3 linked regions of the Homo sapiens genome follow. The protein of the gene in region 1 purifies or fractionates together with the protein of each later gene. This does not show direct contact. Each region holds a gene or a part of one and is shown in the gene's direction. Other genes may lie near its edges.

Region 1 (6,990 bases):
TAGGGAAGGAACAATGTGAAATTTCTTTACCTTTGTATCAACAGTGCCTGGTACTTAGGAGGTGCTCAATAAGCATTTGTTGAACTCAACTGAAGAGTCAGACATTTCTCTGTGCTAGTCTGCAGGTTGTGACTTAAGTCCCCAGTTGTCAGCAGGAAGGAGGCATGGTGAGTATGCGTGTCCACGAAGTGTCTGCCAGGAGCAACAGTTCTGAAACTTTCCCTAAGATTGTATTAAACAGAAGATCCCATAAGAAACAATATTTTTCAATTAGAGATTTAAAAGTCCTATCACAATTTAACTAAACGCTTTCAATTATATTGATGTCAGGGTCAACAGGAGGAAAATGCATGCAACTGCAGAAACACACCTGTGTCAACTGGAATACCTATGAAATAGCAGGAACTGAAGAGTAATGCTGGCCTAGCAGGAGGGCATTTGCAGTTTACAAATCCCAAACTGGGCCAGGCATGGTGGCTTGCACCTGTAATCCCAACTACTCAGGAGTCTGAGGTGGGAGGATTGATTCAGGCCAGGAGTTCAAGAGCATCCTGTGGAACATAACAAGACCTTGTCTAAAAAAAATAAATAAATAAATAAATAAATAAATAAATAAACCAGGTATGGTGGTGCATGCCTGTAGTCCTAGCTATTCTGGATGCTGAGCCTGAGGTGGAAGGATCGCTTGAGCCCAGGTGTTGGGAGCTGCAGTGAGCTAGCATCATGCCACTGCACTCTAGCCTGCGTATCAGAGAGTGAGACCCTCTCTCTTAAAAAAAAAAAAAAAAAAAAAAAAAAAAAAAAAAAAAGTACCAAAGTGGAAGCACTTCCTGAGATTTTGGGCCCTGGGATGATAAAGAATTTGAGTGTCTTGCTTATTGTGCACTGAAATTTAATTCATGACTTTAGAAGGACACAGATGGAGCCACGTCAGATCCTCAGAACAAAAGAGAAAAGATGTTGGGGTTGCTCAAGACCACACAACCAGTGTCAGATGAGGTTTAAACTGCAGTGTCCTTGCATTTCATTTACTTTTCCCTGTATTGGTCATACCTCTATTCCATATGCCTCTTTATTTTTTATAGAACTGACTACTTTTTTTTGTTTCTGAGATGGTTTCGGTCTGTTGCCCAGGCTGGAGTGCAGTAGCGTGATCCTAGCTCACTGTAGCCTAGACCTCCCAGGCTCAAGCGATTCTCTCACCTCAGCCTCCCAAGCAGTTGGGACTACAGGCGTGAGCTACCATGCCTGGCTAATTTTTAAAAAGTATTCTCTGGCCGGGTGCGGTGGCTCACGCCTGTAATCCCAGCACTTTGGGAGGCCAAGGCAGGCGGATCACAAGGTCAGGAGTTTGAGACCAGCCTGACCAACATGGTGAAACCCCGTCTCTACTAAAAATATGAAAATTAGCCAGGCATGGTGGCGCGTGCCTGTAATCCCAGCTACTAAGGAGACTGAGGCAGGAGAATTGCTTGAACCCAGGAGGCAGAGGTTGCAGTGAGCCAAGATCATGCCACTGCACTCCAGCCTGGGTGACAGAGTGAGAGTCTGTCTCAAAAAAAAGTTTTTTAATATTATTTTTTGGTACAGACAGATTCTTGCTATGTTACCCAGGCTCATCTCTAACTCCTGCCCTCAGATGATCCTCCTAACTCGGACTCCCTTACAGGCCTGAGCCACTGCATCCAGCCTAGAATTGACCACTTAGTGCTCCAATCTTTTCCTTATCCTGAGGATGTGAGGAGCTCACTTGTATAAGATTGAGAAGCTTTTTGTTCTCAAAATCTCAGACTTTCCTGAGTGTGAGGGTGACAAGTAAGTTGATGATACCTTTTGACCCCTACTTTCTACATAAGGTAGAAACCTAATCTTGACGATATGTGGCATTAGTTTCATTTATCCAGTGGCCACATCAGGGCTAAGGTTATTTTAGTGTTTTGGAACGTTTTTGGTGTCCATCCCTACCATCCGTTTTCCACCTCATTGAAAGAAGCTCAGCCCAAACTGCTATTAAACTCCAGATTACGGTTTCTAGTAACCTCAGGTGCCTCCCTCCAGACTTAATGTCCTCCACACACTACACCCTGCTGATTTGGAGACTCTTTGAAGCCTAATGTTTGGGGAATGAATAATTAGACCTAGGGTCTCTGGCCTGTGAGATGTTAGGGCTGGAGGGAAGAACTTGCTATCTGATTCCAAAGAAGTGCTGAGAATGTGACACCTGGAGAGGGAAACTTAACATTATTGTTACATGGCATGTCAACTGACAATTTTACAAAGGGTCACTTTTTAGCCAAAGATAGCGATGGCCTCAGTCTGTGGCACCAGCATTCCTGATTTGTGTCCAAAAGGGACTCCATTTTGGGAAAACAGCCAATCTGAAGATTGGAATGGATATTTTTTTTTTTTTTTAAGATGGAGTCTGGCTCTGTCACCCAGGCTGGAGTGCAGTGGCATGATCTCGGCTCACTGCAAGTCCGCCTCCCAGGTTCAAGTGATTCTCCTGCCTCACCCTCCTGAGTAGCTGGGATTACAGGGGCACACCACCACGCCCGGCTAATTTTTGTATCTTTAGTAGAGACGGGGTTTCGCCATGTTGGTCAGGCTGGTCTCAAACTCCTGACCTCGTGATCCGCCCCCCATGGCCTCCCAAAGTGCTGGGATTACAGGTGTGAGCCACCATGCCTGGCCTGGAATGGATAATTTCTCTGCTGCATCTCATTAATTTATACAGCAAGTGTTCACTTCTATATGCTGCACACTAGGGATATGATGGTGTGCACACAGCCCTATTGTCCTGAGATTGCAGATCAGTAGGAATGCTTGGAAGTGAATAAGGTACTCTCCACTCATGCCTTTATCTCTGGACTTTACCTGTCAAGATGAGCCCATGTGTGCAAATATTTCCTGAGTTAGAGCCAGCAAGATCTGAAGTTTTGTAGAAAGGGATGGGTGTGCTACCTTGAGGCCCTGAAAGGTCAGTGAAGTCAGGGCAGAACAATAGGTACTGGAGCTGGGATTTGAGACACAGACAATAGTCCTAACATTTACTGAAGATTTAAAAAATACTAGATGTTCTTAGTAATTCACACGTATTAACCTCACTTAATCCTCACAACAACCCTGTGGTACCATTATTATACCTGGTAAGTGAGGAAGCAGGCACAGAGAGGTAAAGTTGCAAAGTTCATACACTGAGAATCAGGGATTTGAGCCCAAAGCAGTGTTTGATTTGTTTTGTTTTGTTTTTGAGACAGAGTCTCACTCTATCACCCAAGCTGGAGTGCAGTGGCTCAGTCTCTGCTCACTGCAACCTCCCCCTCCCAGGTTCAAGTGATTCTCGCGCCTCAGCCTCCGGAGTAGCTGGAATTACAGGCGCCCACCAGCACACCCGGCTGATTTTTGTATTTTTAGTAGAGACAGGGTTTCTCCATGTTGGGCAGGCTGGTCTTGAACTCCTGACCTCAGGTGATCCGCCCGCCTCGGCCTCCCAAAGTGCTGGGATTACAGGAGTGAGCCACCGCGCCTGGCCTGCAGAACTTTTTCTTTTGGCCACCTGAACAAAGATCCTGGGTCAGTAAGGTGTCAGGGGTTTCTGTGAAGAGGTCAGTTTTCTTCCAGATGAGGATGTGTGTGAGGAAGGTGGAAGCCAGTTTTGTGAAAAGCCTTGAGAATCCCCAAAGGACAGTAACATAGGAAGCTAAATGTGGCGGACTTGCAGGATGAACTGATGCACAGTAAGAGCTCCTTGTGGTCGACCCTTCTGACTTCCATCCCGTTTCCCTGTGCTGGAAGACGCACGCCAGGTGGGGTCGCAGGTTGTTTCTGGTGCCGGCTTAACCGGCGCAGCACCGAAACCCGTAGCTGCGTGCGGGAAGGAACCACCGAGCGGAAGCCGCTCCCACCTTCCTAGAGAGGAGACGGTAGTGGTTATTAGCCGAGGCGCGGACTGCTGACGTCACGCCGGCTGGGCGCGTCCGGGACTTACTCCTTTCCGCAGGGCAGCACCCAGGGACCTGAGTGTTGCAAGGTGCGAGAGGGGAGCGCCGCGGGGAGCGCCGCGGGAAGCGCATGGTGAGCGGTTTCTGCTGTGCCCGGCTGCCGCGGGTCGATTCCAGCTCCTCCCTCGGGAAGCAGGGCGTTTTTCTTCCTGGAGGGCCTGTGGAGCGGAGGCCCGAGGCCTAGGGCAAACTTGCCATGAAGAAAGGAGAGGCTGTTCGAGAGCCCTAGGCTGGGAGTCGGAGGACCTGGGTTCGATTTATACATACTTAAGCATGTCAGTGAACTTCTGGGCACTTTAGTTTTCTGATTTCCAGAAGTAAATACTGTTTCCTGCCTTGCCGTTTCCCAAAGTTGTGCGGGTTGAAGTAAGTATATGCAAGAATTAGTGCCTTCCCTTCATTATTTATTCTTCTCTAACAACAACAAAATAGGTACCGTATGAAGACATGTAGACTCAATACTTTAACAGCAGGCACTATTTATTGAATGCTTACCAGCTGGCATTCTTCTAAGTAGTTGCCATGTAGTAACCCACTTATTCATTACGACAACCCTATAAAGTAGTTACTGGTATCGTCTCCATTTAACAGTTGAAAAAACTGGAGCAAAAAAAGGTTAGGTAACTTGTTCAAAAGTCCTAGTCCTGGAGCCCATGCCATACTTGTAAGTTTGCTGGTGGAAGACAGAATGTAATCAGACTAGAAAGTCCTACAGTAGAAACTTGTAAAATTCTTTGAGAATGTAGACGAGGAAGGGCCTTGGAAAAGTCAAAATTTTCCCACAAGGAAGAGGTGTGAAGTTTCACATTTGAGCTAAATATTAAAGGTTGACTGCAAGCTTGAAAATAATTGCTGGCTTATTTGACCAAATGAGGAAATAAAAGAGACGTTTGAAAATAATTAAACAGTTTGTTCAGTGTCAGTTAAGAGATGCTAGTGGATTGGGATGTATTAGACAGGAAACCAGGTTCCTGCCTTTGAATACAGTGTTCTTTGCATTAGGAGGGTTCTTGAAACCTTTCCCTTATGAAGAGTCCTTAACATCTTACAGCAGATACTCCTTACACAAAGGCAATCCTCTTGTTATTTTCGAGAAATTCCCCCAATTCTAATTGTAGGAGGATAACTGACAGGAAGTTTCCCTGCTGTTGATTCAGCCCGTTCTTAACAAGACCCATTCACCTCACGGCTAGCTCATTTAGTACTTTTCAAATAAATGAATAAACAGATTCAATCAAAGATGGACTGGAAGGGCTTGATTTGAGGTTTTTGCTCTTTTCCCATCTGTATATAGAATCAAAGCTTTGTAGAATGTTGATATTACAAGAAGCTTTAAATATTATCTAGCTTTTCAATTTCATTTAACAAATAAGAAATGGATGAGACTGAGTGACCTGTGTTAGGTCATTGAACAAATTGGTGGCAGAGCTGAGACTAGAATCCACACCTCTTGACTGAGTCCATTACTGGTCCTACTGCCCTCTATTGTAGCCCTGCAGCATTTGACTTTTGAAATCAATGGCTTTTCCAGTAGACTTAGGGGAGCCATTGGGCTCCAACCTGATGTCGTATAAAGAAATTTTTACGCCCAGATGCTTAGTCCTAGGAAGGACCTGCCCTCTTTGTACATTGTCACATCTCTCTGAAGTCTGCCAACTCACTAATTTTTGTCACTGGAGATACTCCTCTAGGATAATAACGATATTCTTTCATTTGAACTTAAAATGGTCATTTGGTTAGAGATGGGATGTTCTTGAGTTACCCTGAATCTAGAAGGTGTAGGAAGTAGGCTGGCAATTTATGAGTGGCTCTTTTTCCTCCCTCAGTGCCTCAAATTCCTGCCTTTCCTCAAGAGAAGAGCCCCCAGGAGAAAAGCCAGTATTGCTTGTGCTCCTAACAACCTGTCTCTTGGTAAGTTAACTCTAACTAGAGAGCCCAGGATGGTGGTGGTTGTGAGACTACCATCAGAAGTGATGGCAGACCTATGGTGGGACCCACCAATGTCCACTAAATGTGGACCCAGCAGAAAATGCAGGACCACACAGAAATGGATACCATTTTACTCAAATCAGTGAGGGTGGCCCACTGTGAAAACGGCTATGGAATAATTGGTTATGGGACAGGTCCTAGAGTGCACTAAGTTCTTATCAGAGTACCTGAACTGAAGACTCTACAGTCATCTGGTAGCACATCTTTAAACCACTTATTGAACTGCTCAGTATGATGCCTTAATGGTGTAGTGGTTGGATCAAGGAATATGGGTAGTAAATTATTGGAAAACCCATTGCAAATGTGATTAGGTATTTCCTCAGAGAATATGGAATGGGCTTCTGGCCATGTTTAGAACAAGAGCTTAAGTTATTGCAGCTGACATTGTCACTGGCAATCAAAAGGCAACATGGAGCCTGGGTGTCTGTCAAACTCAGTAAAATAATTCTGGGTAAATTGTATTCTTAGGTTATGGGAACTCTGTGAAGAGAATATGACTGTGTCCTGAAGAATTTGGATTAGTTTAATATGTATGCATAATATATGTACACTTATGTACGTATTTATGTTTATATGCATCAAGAGATACCTAGAAGAAGGTCCATTAAAATACTATTATTTTCTGTGGCTGGGTTTCAAGTGATTTCCTCTTCGGAGTAGCTGACCATTTAATAGAATGAGCATGCATTCTTTGTATGATAAGAAAAAAACCTTTTTATTTTGGAAAAATGAGAGTAAAGGAATTAAAAATGTGCTTAGAGTTTTGGTTTTACATCTGGTTGCTTAAACCAACTGGAGTTTGTTTTTGTATATAGCATATCCATGTTGTAAGTTAATACATCAGATAAAGATAGGTTTAGGTAAGATAGTCCACATATTTAACAAACAGTATGGTACAGGCATTGCCCAAGCAGGTAGTCGTGAACAATTTGTACAGATATAGCAGTGTGTATCATTTGACTCTCAGCCCCAATAGATCCATATGTACCAACATGAAGTG
Region 2 (7,028 bases), on another chromosome or scaffold:
ATAGAGGTTGGAAATAGCAGTTATCTAGGTTTTTAATGTTGGTTTGATAAACACTGAATTTTACTTAGTTTGCATTAGAGAGCTTACTGTTAACTCTTAAACATTTAAATTCCCTGTTCTCAGTTCTAATTTTCAGTGTGAAATCAGGTAAGATACATTTGCAGGTGAAAAAGTTTGAAATGTAAAAAGATAACCAAATTAATTTAATATTTCCTTGGGAATTTGATTACTTTTTCTGGGAGAGGAGTTCTGGGCAACAACATAAATACTGTTATTTGTGGATATTTGCAGGTTAGGTTTGGTCTTCAAATAAGTCAACATTATTTTCTTTCAGAAAACTTGGTTTTCTGGCTTTCTATAATTTCCCAATTAACATTTAAATAAAAGACCAAATTAAACAATTAAACTTTATTTAATTTGGTCTTTTGTTTAAATGCTTTGTGGCTACCTAGCTTACCTTTTCAGCTTTTAAGGAAAAAAAAAATCAGAGTTTTTTATTTTGTTTTGTTTGGAGACAGCCTCACTCTGTCACCCAGGCTGTAGTGCAGTCGCGTGATCTCAGCTTACTGCAACCTCTCCCTCCCAGGTTCAAGAGATTCCCCTTGCCTCAGCTTCCCCCCCTACCCCAGTATCTGGGATTACAGGCACCTGCCACCAGGCCCAGCTAATTCTTGTGTTACAGGGTTTCCCCATGTTCATCATGCTGGTACTGAACTCCTGGCCTCAAGTGATCTGCCCTTCTCGGCCTCCCAAAGTGCTGGGATTACAGGTGTGAGCCACCATGCCTGGCCAGGGTGTTTTTTGTTATTTGTTTATTTTGAGACAGAGTTTCATTCTGCTGCCCAGGTTGGAGTGCAGTGGCGTGATCTCAGCTCACTGCAACCTCCGCCTCTTGGGTTCAAGCAATTCTCCTGCCTGAGCCTCCCGAGTAGCTGGGATTACAGGTGTGCACCACCACACCCAGCTACTTTTTGTATTTTTTAGTAGAGAGGGGGTTTCACCATGTTGGCCAGGCTGGTCTTGAACTCCTGAACCCAGGTGATCCACACAGCTGGGCCTCCCAAAGTGCTGGGATTACAGTCTTGAGCCACCGCGCCCAGCCTAAAAAGTAGTTTTCTAATGTAACTATATAAGTAGCTAGGTAATTTATTAAAAGAACCCTGTTCAATTCTGCAGTTGGGAGTATTTAAACTTGCCATTTTGTTTTTCCACAACAGTGTTCAGCAAATGTTGATTGTGCTTTCTAAGTATGCCAGGCATTATGTTAAGCAGAGGATATGCTCCTTGCCTAAGGAGCATATAGGGATAGGGAATATGGAGGTCCTTGAACTCCACTTCCAGAGATTCTTACTCATTAATGAAGTCTGAGGTGAAACCTTAGCATCTCTGTATTTTAGCCTTCTAGTGATAACCAAACCACTGGAATAGTGATAGTTAATCCACTGTCACGATTTTGACTCAGGCAGGGTGAGTAGAGTGAGAAGAGCAGCAGCTCTTAGGGGCACAGATTGGGTATACCTAATCAAAAAATCAGAAATGCTCTGAAATCACTTTGTGTTGTTGCCCAGACTGAAGTGCAATGGCAAGATCATAGCTCACTGCAACCTCAACTTCCTGAGCTAAAGTGATTCTCCCGCCTCAGCCTCCTGAGTAGCTAGGACTATAGGTGTGTGGCACCACTCCTAGCTAATTTTTTTTCTTTTTTGTAGAGACACAGGGTCTTGCTCTGTTGCCCAGGCCAGTCTCAAACTCCTGGCCTCAAGCGCTCCTTGAACCTCAGCCTCTCAAAATGGTAGGCCTGGAAATCCAAAACTTTTTGAGCACCGTTGTGATGCTCAAAGGAAATGCTCACTGCAGCATTTTGGATTTCGGATTTTCAGATTAGGGATGTTGATTGTAAGTATAATTAAATATTCCAAATCTGAAAAACTTCTGGTCTCAAGTATTTTGGATAAGGAATACTCAACCTGTACCATATTTAGAGTGTGTGCCGAGAGGAATATGGACCTGGGACTATTGAATGTGAGTGGTCAGAGGAGGTATAAAAAACAGTGGATAGGTATCTTGCTTTTATAAGATCTGTTATGCTAAATAACTTTTTTTTTTTTTGGAGACGGAGTCTTGCTCTGTTGCCAGGCTGGAGAGCAGTGGTGGCGTGATCTTGGCTCAGTGCAACCTCTGCCTCCTGGGTTCAAGCGATTCTCCTGCCTCAGCCTCCTGAGAAGCTGGGACTACAGGTGCGCGCCACCACACCCAACTAATTTTTGTATTTTTAGTAGAGACTGGGTTTCACCATGTTGGTCAGATGGTCTCAACCTCTTGACCTCGTGATCCGCCTGCCTTGGCCTCCCAAAGTGCTGGGATTACAGGCGTGAGCCACCGTGCCCAGCCAAATAACTCATTTTAAAGAAAAAAATATCTAAGCCTTACTGAAGAAATTTTCTGTTGGCTGTTGGTTCGAAAGCTGTATTTCACTTATTTAATTAAGAGATTTAATTAAAGAACCTCAAGTTGAGGTTGCAAGCCTAAACTAAGGAAGACAGTGTACTATTCTTTTTTTTTTTTTCGTTTGAGACGGAGTCTCGCTTTGTTGCCCAGGCTGGAGTGCGGTGGTGCGATCTCGGCTCACCGCAAGCTCCGCCTCCTGGGTTCACGCCATTCTTCTGCCTCAGCCTCCCGAGTAGCTGGGACTACAGGCAGCCGCTACCATGCCTGGCTAATTTTTTTGTATTTTTTAGTAGAGATGGGGTTTCACCATGTTAGCCAGGATGATCTGGATCTCCTGACCTCGTGATCCGCCCACCTCGGCCTGCCAAAGTGCTGGGATTACAGGCATGAGCCACCGTGCCCGGTCAACAGTGTACTATTCTAGCATATTGTTTACTGATTGGGGAGTCAGTTATAGCCCTGGTTTTTACTCTGTCTAGTTAATATCTCAGAACCTTCAAATTTTTTTTTTTTTTTTTTATACATGTCTCACTGTGTCACCCAGGCTGGAGTGCAGTGGCCTGATCTTGGCTCACTGCAACCTCCACTTCCAGGGTTCAAGCGATTCTCCTGCTTCAGCCTCTCAAGTAACTGGGATTACAGGCACGCGCCACCACACCCAGCTATTTTTTGTATTTTATTAGAGATGAGGTTTCACCATGTTGGCCAGGCTGGTCTCGAACTCCTGACCTCAAATGATCGACCTACCTTGGCCTCCCAGAGTGTTGGGATTATAGGCATGAGCCACGGTGCCCAGCCACACTTTTTGTTGTTGTTGTTGAGATGGAGTTTCTCTCTTGTTGCCCAGGCTGGAGTGCAATGACGCGATCTCAGCTCACTGCAACCTCTGCCTCCCAGGTTCAAGCGATTCTCCTGCCTCAGCCTCCTGAGTAGCTAGGATTACAGGCGTATGCCACCACGCCTGGCTAATTTTGTATTTTTAGTAGAGATGGGGGTTTCTCCATGTTGGTCAGGCTGGTCTCAAACTCCCGACCTCAGGTGATCTGCCCGCCTCGGCCTCCCAAAGTTCTGGGATCACAGTGAGCCACCTTGCCCGGCCTTGTTTTGTTTTTAATCTGGGACTGAAAATGAGGGAGTTGAAATACTAGGTTGGTCCTTTTTTACATTAAGTGTTTTATTCGTTTAACATCATTTTAAAAACCTCAGTTAATTGGAGATGTTCATTTTTTCCAAGAAATTGAATTCAGGTGTGCATATTGTGGTTATGTTCATTAATTGGGAGAGGAGGAAGAGGGTGTACAAGCCTGTGCATGATGTGTGCAGGCACATGTGTTTTGAAGTTATTAAAGTGTTTGATATAGTTTAGATTTATTTCTTTTGGACTTTTATATTTTCCCAGCTGATCTCCTTGAGCTGTAAGTTTAAATTACACTGACTTGTTGAATTGCTATGGCAGTAGTCCTATGAATCAAACTCTGGGGATGGGGTCTGGCTGTCTGTTTTAACAAGCCTTCTAGGTGATGGTGATGCAAGCTAAAGTTTGAGAACTGCTGATGTAGTTGAAATTTAATAGCAGTGTTTCTCTATGTGTTACGTGTAGTGATAGATTACTACAGAGGTGGGTTAATGAGGGAAGATAAATTGTTTAAGAAACTAATAATAGGGGACCAGTCACGGTGGCTCACACCTGTAATCCCAGCACTTTGGGGACTGTGCCAGGCAGATCACTTGAGGTCAGGAGTTTGAGACCAGCCTGGCCAATATGGTGAAACACTAGCTGGGCGTGGTGGCCTGTGCCTGTAATCCCAGCTACTTGGGAGACTTGAGGCAGGAGAATTGCTTGAACCTGGGAATTGGAGGTTGCAGTGAGCTGAGATAGTGTCACTGCACTCTAGCCTGGGTGACAGAGGGAGACTCTACTTCAAAAAAAAGGTAATAATGGGAAAATTTCCAGAACCTAGGCAACGTTTACTAGGCTAATCATAGGGTTGGAAGATGTTTGTCATCGTAGATGCTATCCTTCATGCTATGCTATCCTTCAGCTAAGGTGGTCTTTACTCAGTATTTTCTTTTCTTTTCTTTTCTTTTTTGGAGACAGAGTCTTTTCTCTCTTGCCCAGGCTGGGGTGCAGTGGCGCCATCTCGGCTCACTGCAACCTTCGCCTGCTGGGTTCAAGCGATTCTCCTCCTTCAGCCTCCCGAGTAGCTGGGATTACAGGCGCCCACCACTACGCCCGGCTAATTTTGTATTTTTGGTAGAGACGGGGTTTCACCATGTTGGCCAGGCTGATCTCGAACTCCTGACCTCAGGTGATCCACCCGACTTGGCCTCCCAAAGTGCTGGGATTACAGGCATGAGCCACTGCACCCGGCCAGTATTTTCAAATAGACAAACTAAACTAGTGACATCTGACATTCTAGATTGGAGTTCTTGATTTCCCTTCCAGTCCTAGATTTTTTTAATATAGAATGTTGAGTTTTCTAATTTATTAGTATGCTGGAAGAGATATAAAGTCCTGGATAGATATAAAGTCCTGTTTAAAGGAATATGAGAAGACTTATTCTTAAGGAGTTGAGAATCTCTTAGAGTTAAAGCTGTTAGGTTAGTGAGTAATTTAAATAAGTGGATAGTAATAGATACTCATGGAAGAGACCTCTGTAGGTGTTGTCAAAGATGGCTAGGATTTGGGTGGATAAAAAAGAGGAAGTCATTCTAAGGAACTGAATGAGGTGAGAATGAGGAGAGTTTTTGGGTAATGGTGAAATCAGCTAAAGTAGAATGGAGCTTATAAATGCTGGATAATAATGTAGAACCTGGGAGATTAAATACTGTGATGAAAGGTAAGCAGAAGTCATCACATTAGATTCTTTTGGGGTTGACCTGTGGTAACTATGTAGATTGGTTATCTTTTGCCTTATGTTACCCCAAAACTTAGTGGCTTAAAAAAACAAGGATCTGTTATATCATAGTTTCTGTGAGTCACAATTCTGGATGCAGCTTACCTGGGGGCCTCTGGCTTATGGTCTCTTACAAGGCTGCAACCAAGGTGACGGCTTGGTAGCAGTTCTCTCTCTCTCTTTTTTTTTTTTTTTTTTAAAGACAGAGGCTTGCTGTGGTGCCCAGGCTGGAGTGCAATGGCATAATCTCGGCTCATTGCAACCCTCACCTCTTGAGTCCAAGTGATCCTCTTACCTCAGCCTCCTGAGTAGTTGGGACTATAGATGTGCACCACCACACCCCAGCTTATTTTTTTGTTTTTGTGGGTTTTTTGGTAGAGACCAGTATTTTTTTGTTTTGCCATGTTGCCTAGGCTGCTCTTGAACACCTTAATTCAAGGGATCTGCCCGCCTTAGCCTCCTAAAGTGCTGGGATTACAGGCATGAGCCACCGTGTCTGGCCTGGGTAGCAGTCCTCAAGGCTTGACTGGGGAAGCTTCCCCTTCCGAGCTCACTCATTTGGCTGTGACCAGGCCAGATTTTCACTGGCTGGTTGTTGCCCAGAGATATCAGTTCCTTGCCATGTGGGCCTCTCCATAAAGTGGCTGACAACACAGTAGCTTGTTTCCTCCAGAGTGAGGGATCTTAGAGAAAAGGCCCATACGATGGAAGCCACAAAGTTTTTATAACTTAATTTCAGAAGTAACGTCGCATCACTTTGCAATATTCTATTTGTTGTAAGTGAATAACCAAATCCAGCCCATACTCAATCGGAGGGGATTATACAAAGATGTGAAGACCAGGAGGCAGGGGTCTTTGGGGGCTATCTTAGAGGCCGGCTGTTTGTCTCTGTCTCTCTCTGTTAAGAGGTAAATTACAGCTATTGTATAATGCCTTTCTATCCAATCTTTTTGTATGCTATTGGGAGAACATAGTGTTTTGGATTTTTTATTTTGGATTAACCGTAAATTAATTACTTTTGGCTTTGCAAAACATTATACCTGTAAATGATAAACATTCCTAATAACCTTTCAGTGGCTTAAGTTTAAAATAGCTTGTAGTCTCAGAATTGGTAGGAATTTGAGATTCTCCAGTTTACTGATTTTTTTTTTTTTTAACTCTAGCTACGTAATGGAATCACCTGGGGATTTTTTTCATTACTGTTTTTAAAATAGAAAATTGTAGATTCACAGCCGGGCATGGTGGCTCACGCCTGTAATCCCAGCACTTTGGGAGGCCGAGGCAGGCGGATCACCTGAAGTCAGGAGTTCGAGACCAGCCTGGCCAAATGGCGAAACCCCGTCTCTACTAAAAAAATACAAAAATTAGCCGGGCATGGTGGTGGGCGCCTGTAATCCCAGCTACTCGGGAGGCTGAGGCAGGAGAATCACTTGAACCCAGGAGACAGAGGTTGCAGTGAGCCAAGATTATGCCATTGCACTCCAGCCTGGGCAACAAGAGTGAAACTCCATCAAAAAAAAAAAAAAAAAAGAAGAAAAGAAAAGAAAATTGTAGATTCACATGCAGTTACAAGAAATAATGCAAAAATCCCACATATTCTTTTTTCCAAAAAATTTTATTTCCCTAGGTTATTGGGGAAGAGGTGGTATTTGGTTACATAAGTAAATTCTTTAGTGGTGATTT
Region 3 (7,028 bases), about 35 Mb from region 1:
GAATTTGAGACCAGCCTGGGCAAAATAGTGAGACCCTGTCTCCACTAAAAATAAAATAAATATTTTAAAAAATAAAATGAATAGGTTAACCAGAACAGTGATGTCTAAAAGTTAGCAAGGTGATTCAGAGGAGTTTCTGGAGCCGTGCTGCATTGGTTTAAATCCCAGAGGAGGCTGGGTGTGGTGACACACACCTGTAATCCCAGCACTTTGGGAGGTCAAGATTGGAGGATTGTTTCAGGCCAGGAGTTCTAGACCAGCCTAGGCGACATAGGGAGACCCTGTCTCTACAAAAAATAAAAAAAAAATTAGCTGAGTATGATGACAGACACCTATAGTCCCAGGTACTTGGGAGGCTGAAGTAAGAGATTGCTTGAGCCCAGGAAGTCCAGGCCACAGTGATCTGTGATCATGCCACTGCACTCAATCCTGGGCGACAGAGTGAGACCCTGTCTCAAAAAGGGAATTCCTGAGGAGCTGTCTTTGTGCCTCAGTATCCTCATTTATAAAGGGAATAATACCTAGCTTAGGGGATGTGAATATGAGATGAGGCCATGTATGTAAAATGTGTAGAATAGTGCTTTGCATTAGGAAGTGCTGTATGAGTATCAGCTGTGCTTCTGCTGTGGTTAAGCTCAGGAAGTCTTTCAGTGAAAGATTGGGGAACATTTTGGTTTAGTTTAGTTCACTTTTGAGACAGGGTCTCGCTGTATCACCCAGACTGGAGTGCAGTGGTGCAATCATGGCTCACTAAAGCCTTGACCTCCCAGGCTCAGGCTGTCCTCCCACCTCAGCCTCCCGAGTAGCTGGGACTGTGGGCCTGTGCCACTGCACTCAGTGTAATAAGACTTTTTATTTGAGACTTTACCAATTTTTAAAACTTTTTTGTTGAGATACACTTTGCACCCCTTAAGTACACAAATCTTAAGTTTTCAGTAAGTTTTTACTTATATACACGATGTGTAAACAGCATCCAGATAGAGATACAAACTATTTCCAGTACCTCGGGCTCCCCTTGCCCTTTCCCAGTCAGTACCCACTCAAGGCAATCACTAATCTGACTGCTACCACCAAAAATTCGTTTTGCCAATTTTTGAACTTCATATAAATGAAATCATATAGTATATAGTTTTTTTCGTTCATTTTAATATCTATTATTTTCTTTTAATTCACTATGTTTATTGGCTACAACCAGATTTCACCCCAATTTTTATAACACAAACATATTTTGAAGGCTTAGAGGTTTTTTAATATGTATTTTTTAAATGTCTTAACTTTTTAGACAGTTCTGGGCTGTGGTGCGCTATGCCAATCAGGTGTCTGCACTAAGTTTGGCATCAATATGGTGACCTCCCAGGAGTAGGGGACCAACAGGTTGCCTAAGGAGGGGTGAACCGGCCCAGGTCAGAAAAGTCTTATTACTAAGCGCAGTTTGAACAATCCTAAAACTATTTTGTCTTGTTCCACTTTGCTATAGGTTCTTTTGAACATCCATGATAATGAAGTCATTGTGGGCATTGCATTGACTGAAGAGAGTCTCCACCGAAGAAATATAACACATTTTGGACCTACAACTCTTAGATCAACTCTTGCCTATGGGATGCTCAGGTAAGAAAATGAGTTTGCCATCCAGCTTAAAGTGGCACCTTGGTTTGAATGTTCCCTTCAAAATACTGATTTGTGTGTATGTGTGTTTGAGGTACTGTGTTGGAATAGAGTGGATAAAGAATAGAATGGAAAGCTAATGATCTATTTCTTTCCCTTCTATCCAATATTGACTCCTTGTGATCTGAAAATACTGCTTAATAGGTGGCTCAGTTTTCTTTATTTCTTTTTTTGAGACAAAGTCTCACTCTGTCGCCCAGACTGGACTGCAGTGGCGAGATCTCAGCTCACTGTAACCTCTGCCTCCCGGGTTCAAGCGATTCTCCTGTCTCAGCCGAATAGCTGGGATTACAGGTGCCTGCCACCACGCCCAGATAATTTTTGTATTTTTTTAATAGAGACGACATTTCACTATGTTGGCGAGGCTGGTCTCAAATACCTGACCTCAGGTGATCCACCCGCCTCGGCCTCCCAAAGTGCTGGGATTACAGGTGTAAGCCACCGCGCCCGGTTTTCTTGATTTTAAAATGAGAGTAATAGTTTTCACCTGCCTCTTGAATGAGGTTACCACATTTCTGTTTAGCAAGGATATGTGTGTTGGGAGATAAGAGTAAATTTTGCTGTTTCATTTCTGTGCAGTGAAAAAGATGAAAGCAGAGATTTTTATGTGTATAACGTGTAAATGAACAGAAAGAGCTTTTACTTATATTTTTAAGCTTTATACTCACAGCAACTCAGGAATCATCCTAGAATTTTTTGCTTTTCAGAGTACACGACCTATCTTTCCTTCTCCTTTGCCCTTCTCTCTTTTATTGGGTGCTTCTTTCCACCACTTGAAAATGTTTATTTTCTCTAAAGCTTCTGTTTTCCAGATGGCAAAATGGATTTGATGTGAGACTTAAAGGATTATTAGTGAGGATTAAATGCTGAAGCATATGCAAAATACCTATTATATACAGTGCCTGGTATGTCCTGGTAGTTAAGTCCAGTCATGCATCACTTAATGACAGGGATACATTCTGAAAAATGTGTCATCACGCAATTTCATCATTGTGCGAACCTCATGGAGTGTACCTACACAAATCTAGATGGTGTAGCCTACTACACACCTGGGCTATGTGGTATCTCCTATTGCTCCTAGGCTACAAACCTGTACAGCATGTTATTGTACTGAATATTGTAGTCAGTTGTAACGCAGTGGTATTTGTGTATCTAAACATAGAAAGGATAGGGCAAAATATGGTATTATAATTACTGCATTCATATATTTGGTCCACCATTGATTGGAAGATTGTCATGCAGTACACGACTGTATTCCTTCTCTTCCAATCTTTTATCTTCCTAACATATTAATTCAATGACGATAATAGAAAATTGGGCCCATTTGATAAAGGAAAATCTTCTAGTCTTCATTAATTTAACAAATATGCATTATCTACTGCCAGGCATATGGTAGAAACCAGGGATACAGAGAGGGTGTTATTTTGGGTGCAAATATTTAAAACCTAAGTAATCAAGTTTAGGATAAAAAAGTGATAATTGTGCCAGAGAGGGGTTTATTGGAAAGATAAAGAGAAATCTTGGGGATTCTACAGAAAAACTGAATGTTGGTTCTCAAGAAGGGTAGGAACCACATCTTGGAAAACCACCAGAAATGTAGGCAGCCATTTTTATCTCCCCTTAGAGCCTGTGGACTCTTGTCTCTTCTCATCTACATGCTTTCTCATCTAAATTTATGTATTTCCAATTCCAAACGACCAACCCACACTGCCTAGGGCTTTTAGCTCTTTGTTCCAAATTCCTGGAAGAGAGGATCTGATGGACATTGTTTTGGTCAGATATTCACCCCTGACCATCAGGAATGGCTTGGAGTACAGGGTGCTTACCCCCTCAAGAGGGTTGCCAAGGATTCTATTGCCATGTGTTGAGGAGTAGGAGCAAGGAGATAGAGCAGGACCAATGTTACAATAAGAACCCACTATTAACCCCCAAGAATCTGTCTTGTGAGGGAGATAAATAGTTATCATACATGCGATAAGTCCCACACCAGCACATGAAAAGATTAGAAGAACAAGAGAAGGGAAGAAACCTACTGACCTGTTTCAGGGTGGGATGCTTCATAAAGAGGATAACAGTTAAGCCACTAACAGTAATGCCTCTAATCTTGAATCTGTTACCTACTAGTTTTGTGTCCCTGGGCAGGTAACTTCATGTTTCCTTGCATCAGCTTACCTTTAAAATGAGAATAATGATAATTATCTAACAGGGTCCTTACTGAGGATTCTGTGAGATAATGCATGGAAAGAGCTTAAGTCCATGCCCAGGAAATACTAAGTGCTCAAAGTAAAGCATTTTTTTTTCCTTTTTTTATTACCTAGTCCCACAGAGCAATTTTTTTATATCAAGATTAGCTTTAAATTCAGAAGGAAAGGAATACTGAATGTCTCATTGCCAGTAACCTTATATTGATGCATGTTTGACTTGAGACATTTTTGAGTCTTTTTAATGTAATACAGGTTTCTGTTGAAAACAACACTGTTGTCAAAAAGTATGCATGAGCGTGTGTGTGTGTGTGTGTGTACACATGTGTACTTTAAGATGTCTGCAAACTAAATTTCATCTGAGAGTGAAATGGGATTTTGGAAGATAGTCAAAGGAGATTTAGTTATAAGGATTTTTTTTCCCCAAGTAATGGAATATACAGTCAACATATCATTATAAATTGATTTTATTTATTTATTTATTTATTTTTGAGACGGAGTCTTGCTCTGTCACCCAGGCTGCATCTTACATGATCTTGGCTCACTGCAATCCCCGCCTTCTGGGTTCAAGCAATTCTCGAGTCTCAGCCTTTGTACTAGCTGGGATTACAGGCACCCACCACCACGCCCAGCTAATTTTTTGTATTTTTAGTGGAGACGGGGTTTCGCCATGTTGGCCAGGCTGGTCTTGAATTCCTGACCTCAAGCGATCCACCCATCTCAGCCTCCCAAAGTGCTGGGATTACAGGCGTGAGTCACCGTGCGCGGCCACAAATTGATTTCTAAAATATGTGTAGATTGGTGTTCCTTCGGGCTAGTGTGGTAGGTCCTCAATCTTAAAGCTTCAGGAATCATCAGTATAGAAGCCTCAGCTTTTGAGTGAGTCTTCACATAGGCTGTTTTCTTTTCTCTAGGCTCTGTGATCCTCTACCTTATGATATAATAGTCGATCCAATGTGTGGAACTGGGGCAATACCAATAGAGGTAATCATATTTCTTTAGCTTTTAGATAAGAGTGATACATCCAGAATATTCTAGACCTAATGGGCAAATTAGACATAATGAAATCTCCATGGTTGGATCAGTGGACCCAAGAGTTTTAAAACAATTAACAATAGAAAGTGGAACTTTTTTGTAAAGAATGTAACTACTTATTTCAAAGAGCCATGTGCCACTGGCCTAGATACATTGTTAGTGACATCTATTCACTAGATTACAGAGGAAGCTGAGAATTACAAACTGCCGATGAGTCCTCTTTGTGTAACAGACAAGCTGGTAGACTTGAATGGGAAAAGATAATTGAAGGCATAAGCATAAACTGGAGGAAGGCAATTTTCTTCTCTGTAATCCACTTAAGTTCCTAGAGGGAATAAGTATAGTTGTAAAAAGGGGAAACTTATGAACATTACTTGGATTTTTTAGGAAGTCTAACAAGCTTAATACCAAATGCTCTTAGTTTTCAAAATTACCATGATATTGAGAGGACTCATAAAAACTGTGTAAAGCAAAGCAAGAAATGGAAAGGCATTTTCTAAATGGAGAATATTTCACAGTAGATTCCCCTTGAATAATCAGTATCATCTATATGTTTTTAAAGAATTTAGAAGAGGGAGCTCCCAGTAAAATCACTGAAGTTTGTGTGAAACATAGTAGTTCTTCCATATAGTATACTGACAGCCAATTTGAATAAACTGCAGGGAGACACAGCAGATTATATGATTGGGTAGAAACTGGACAGATGAGCAAGTCCAAAGCAAGCCCACAAGGGGAGAAATAATCCAAACTGTAATTAGAAAATGGTATCTGTTCTGGGAGTTAAAATCCAAGACTGAAATCATAGAAGTCTACATGTGACTGTGTTCCGTGAAAGCTAGAGAAATTACTGTGGCTTAAAGAGACTGCACAGTAAAAACCCAGTCCTTCTTGTGGCCAAGAAGGATTCTGGGAAGAAAGCAGAGTGTTGTTTTCTAGTATGAAATCATGATATGTGTATGAAATAGCAGGTAAGGTCACCGCATGTCAAGAAATACACAACAGAGCTCCGAGTAAAAATAAAGGCCGAAAAAAATTAAAACATGAAGTTTGAGCCATTTCCATGTAAGAGTAGACATGCAGATGTCAATGTAGAAAAACCTAAGCCGATATATGATCAAAATGAATAAAATTATGAATAAATTGACAAGGTATATATAAAGATTTGTTCACCAAAGTATAAAATACTTGATCTAGAATAATTTTTTTTTTTAATTTAGAAGTGTTATGCTATAAAACCCAATTCTTTCCAATGCTGAAAATCCAAATAGGTTTAGGAAAAAAAAAAAAGAATATTTGGGAATCGGAATCACTGAGAGCCTTCCTCAAACTCTAGGTCCCCTCTACATCCCCACCCACCCAAAATTCTGGGATACTTCAACTTCCCTTTTGTTTGATGTCATCGTAGGATTGTAGACAGGGTATGTTATCACCCTCAAGTGTCTGGGCAAAAGAAAAAGTTATGAAACACTGCACTCATGGATGAGAAGTATGTTACTGTTCACAAAGGAACACAAAGGTGTTTGCTACTCACCCCTAAGCAGAGGCAGACCTTTCCCGGCTTTCGTGTCAGAAACCTTCTGTTAATCTGCATAGAACATTGTTCAGGCCTAGGGTCACGTCACCTCATTCCACAAATGACATGTGACAGCTTGGTATTTATGTTCTGCTGACAGGTTTTTTATTTATAATTACAAAATCCTTCCAGTGATATGGTGGTTACCATTCAAAAGCCTATCATACAAAGGAAATTGCATTTTACTATTATTTTTTTGACCTGGGGTCTTGCTCTGTCAGCCAGGCTGGAGTGCAGTGGTGTAATCTCAGCTCCCTGCAACCTCTGCCTCCCTGTCTTAAGCCATTCTCCCACCTCAGCCTCTCGAGTAGCTGAGACTCAGGTGCACACCATCACACCCAGCTGATTTTTGTGTTTTTGTAGAGATGGGCTTTCACCATGTTCCCAGGCTGGTCTCAAACTCCTGGGCTCAAGAAATCCTCCTGCCTCAGCTTCCCAAAGTGCTGGGATTTCAGGTGTGAGCCACCATGCCCGGCCGGAAATAGCATTTTATTTTGCAATTTTCAAATATATCAGATTATGTAAACTCCCACAACCACAAATCTCAAATATTT

Evidence for each region.
Region 2: the proteins of ZNF501 (region 1) and ARIH1 purify together in Homo sapiens (affinity purification with mass spectrometry; 3 studies listed by BioGRID and IntAct, with this or other methods). This does not show direct contact.
Region 3: the proteins of ZNF501 (region 1) and THUMPD3 purify together in Homo sapiens (affinity purification with mass spectrometry; 3 studies listed by BioGRID and IntAct, with this or other methods). This does not show direct contact.

The regions. Positions count from the first base shown.
Region 1 is NC_000003.12:44,725,649-44,732,638, forward strand, and holds the start of ZNF501 (zinc finger protein 501), read left to right. Parts: upstream 1-3,986; 5' UTR 3,987-4,367; intron 4,368-5,827; 5' UTR 5,828-5,912; intron 5,913-6,990. UniProt on the Homo sapiens protein: May be involved in transcriptional regulation. Essential for Golgi structural integrity.
Region 2 is NC_000015.10:72,477,315-72,484,342, forward strand, and holds part of ARIH1 (E3 ubiquitin-protein ligase ARIH1), read left to right. Parts: intron 1-7,028. UniProt on the Homo sapiens protein: E3 ubiquitin-protein ligase, which catalyzes ubiquitination of target proteins together with ubiquitin-conjugating enzyme E2 UBE2L3.
Region 3 is NC_000003.12:9,373,039-9,380,066, forward strand, and holds part of THUMPD3 (tRNA (guanine(6)-N(2))-methyltransferase THUMP3), read left to right. Parts: intron 1-1,477; coding exon 1,478-1,608; intron 1,609-4,780; coding exon 4,781-4,850; intron 4,851-7,028. UniProt on the Homo sapiens protein: Catalytic subunit of the THUMPD3-TRM112 methyltransferase complex, that specifically mediates the S-adenosyl-L-methionine-dependent N(2)-methylation of guanosine nucleotide at position 6 (m2G6) in tRNAs.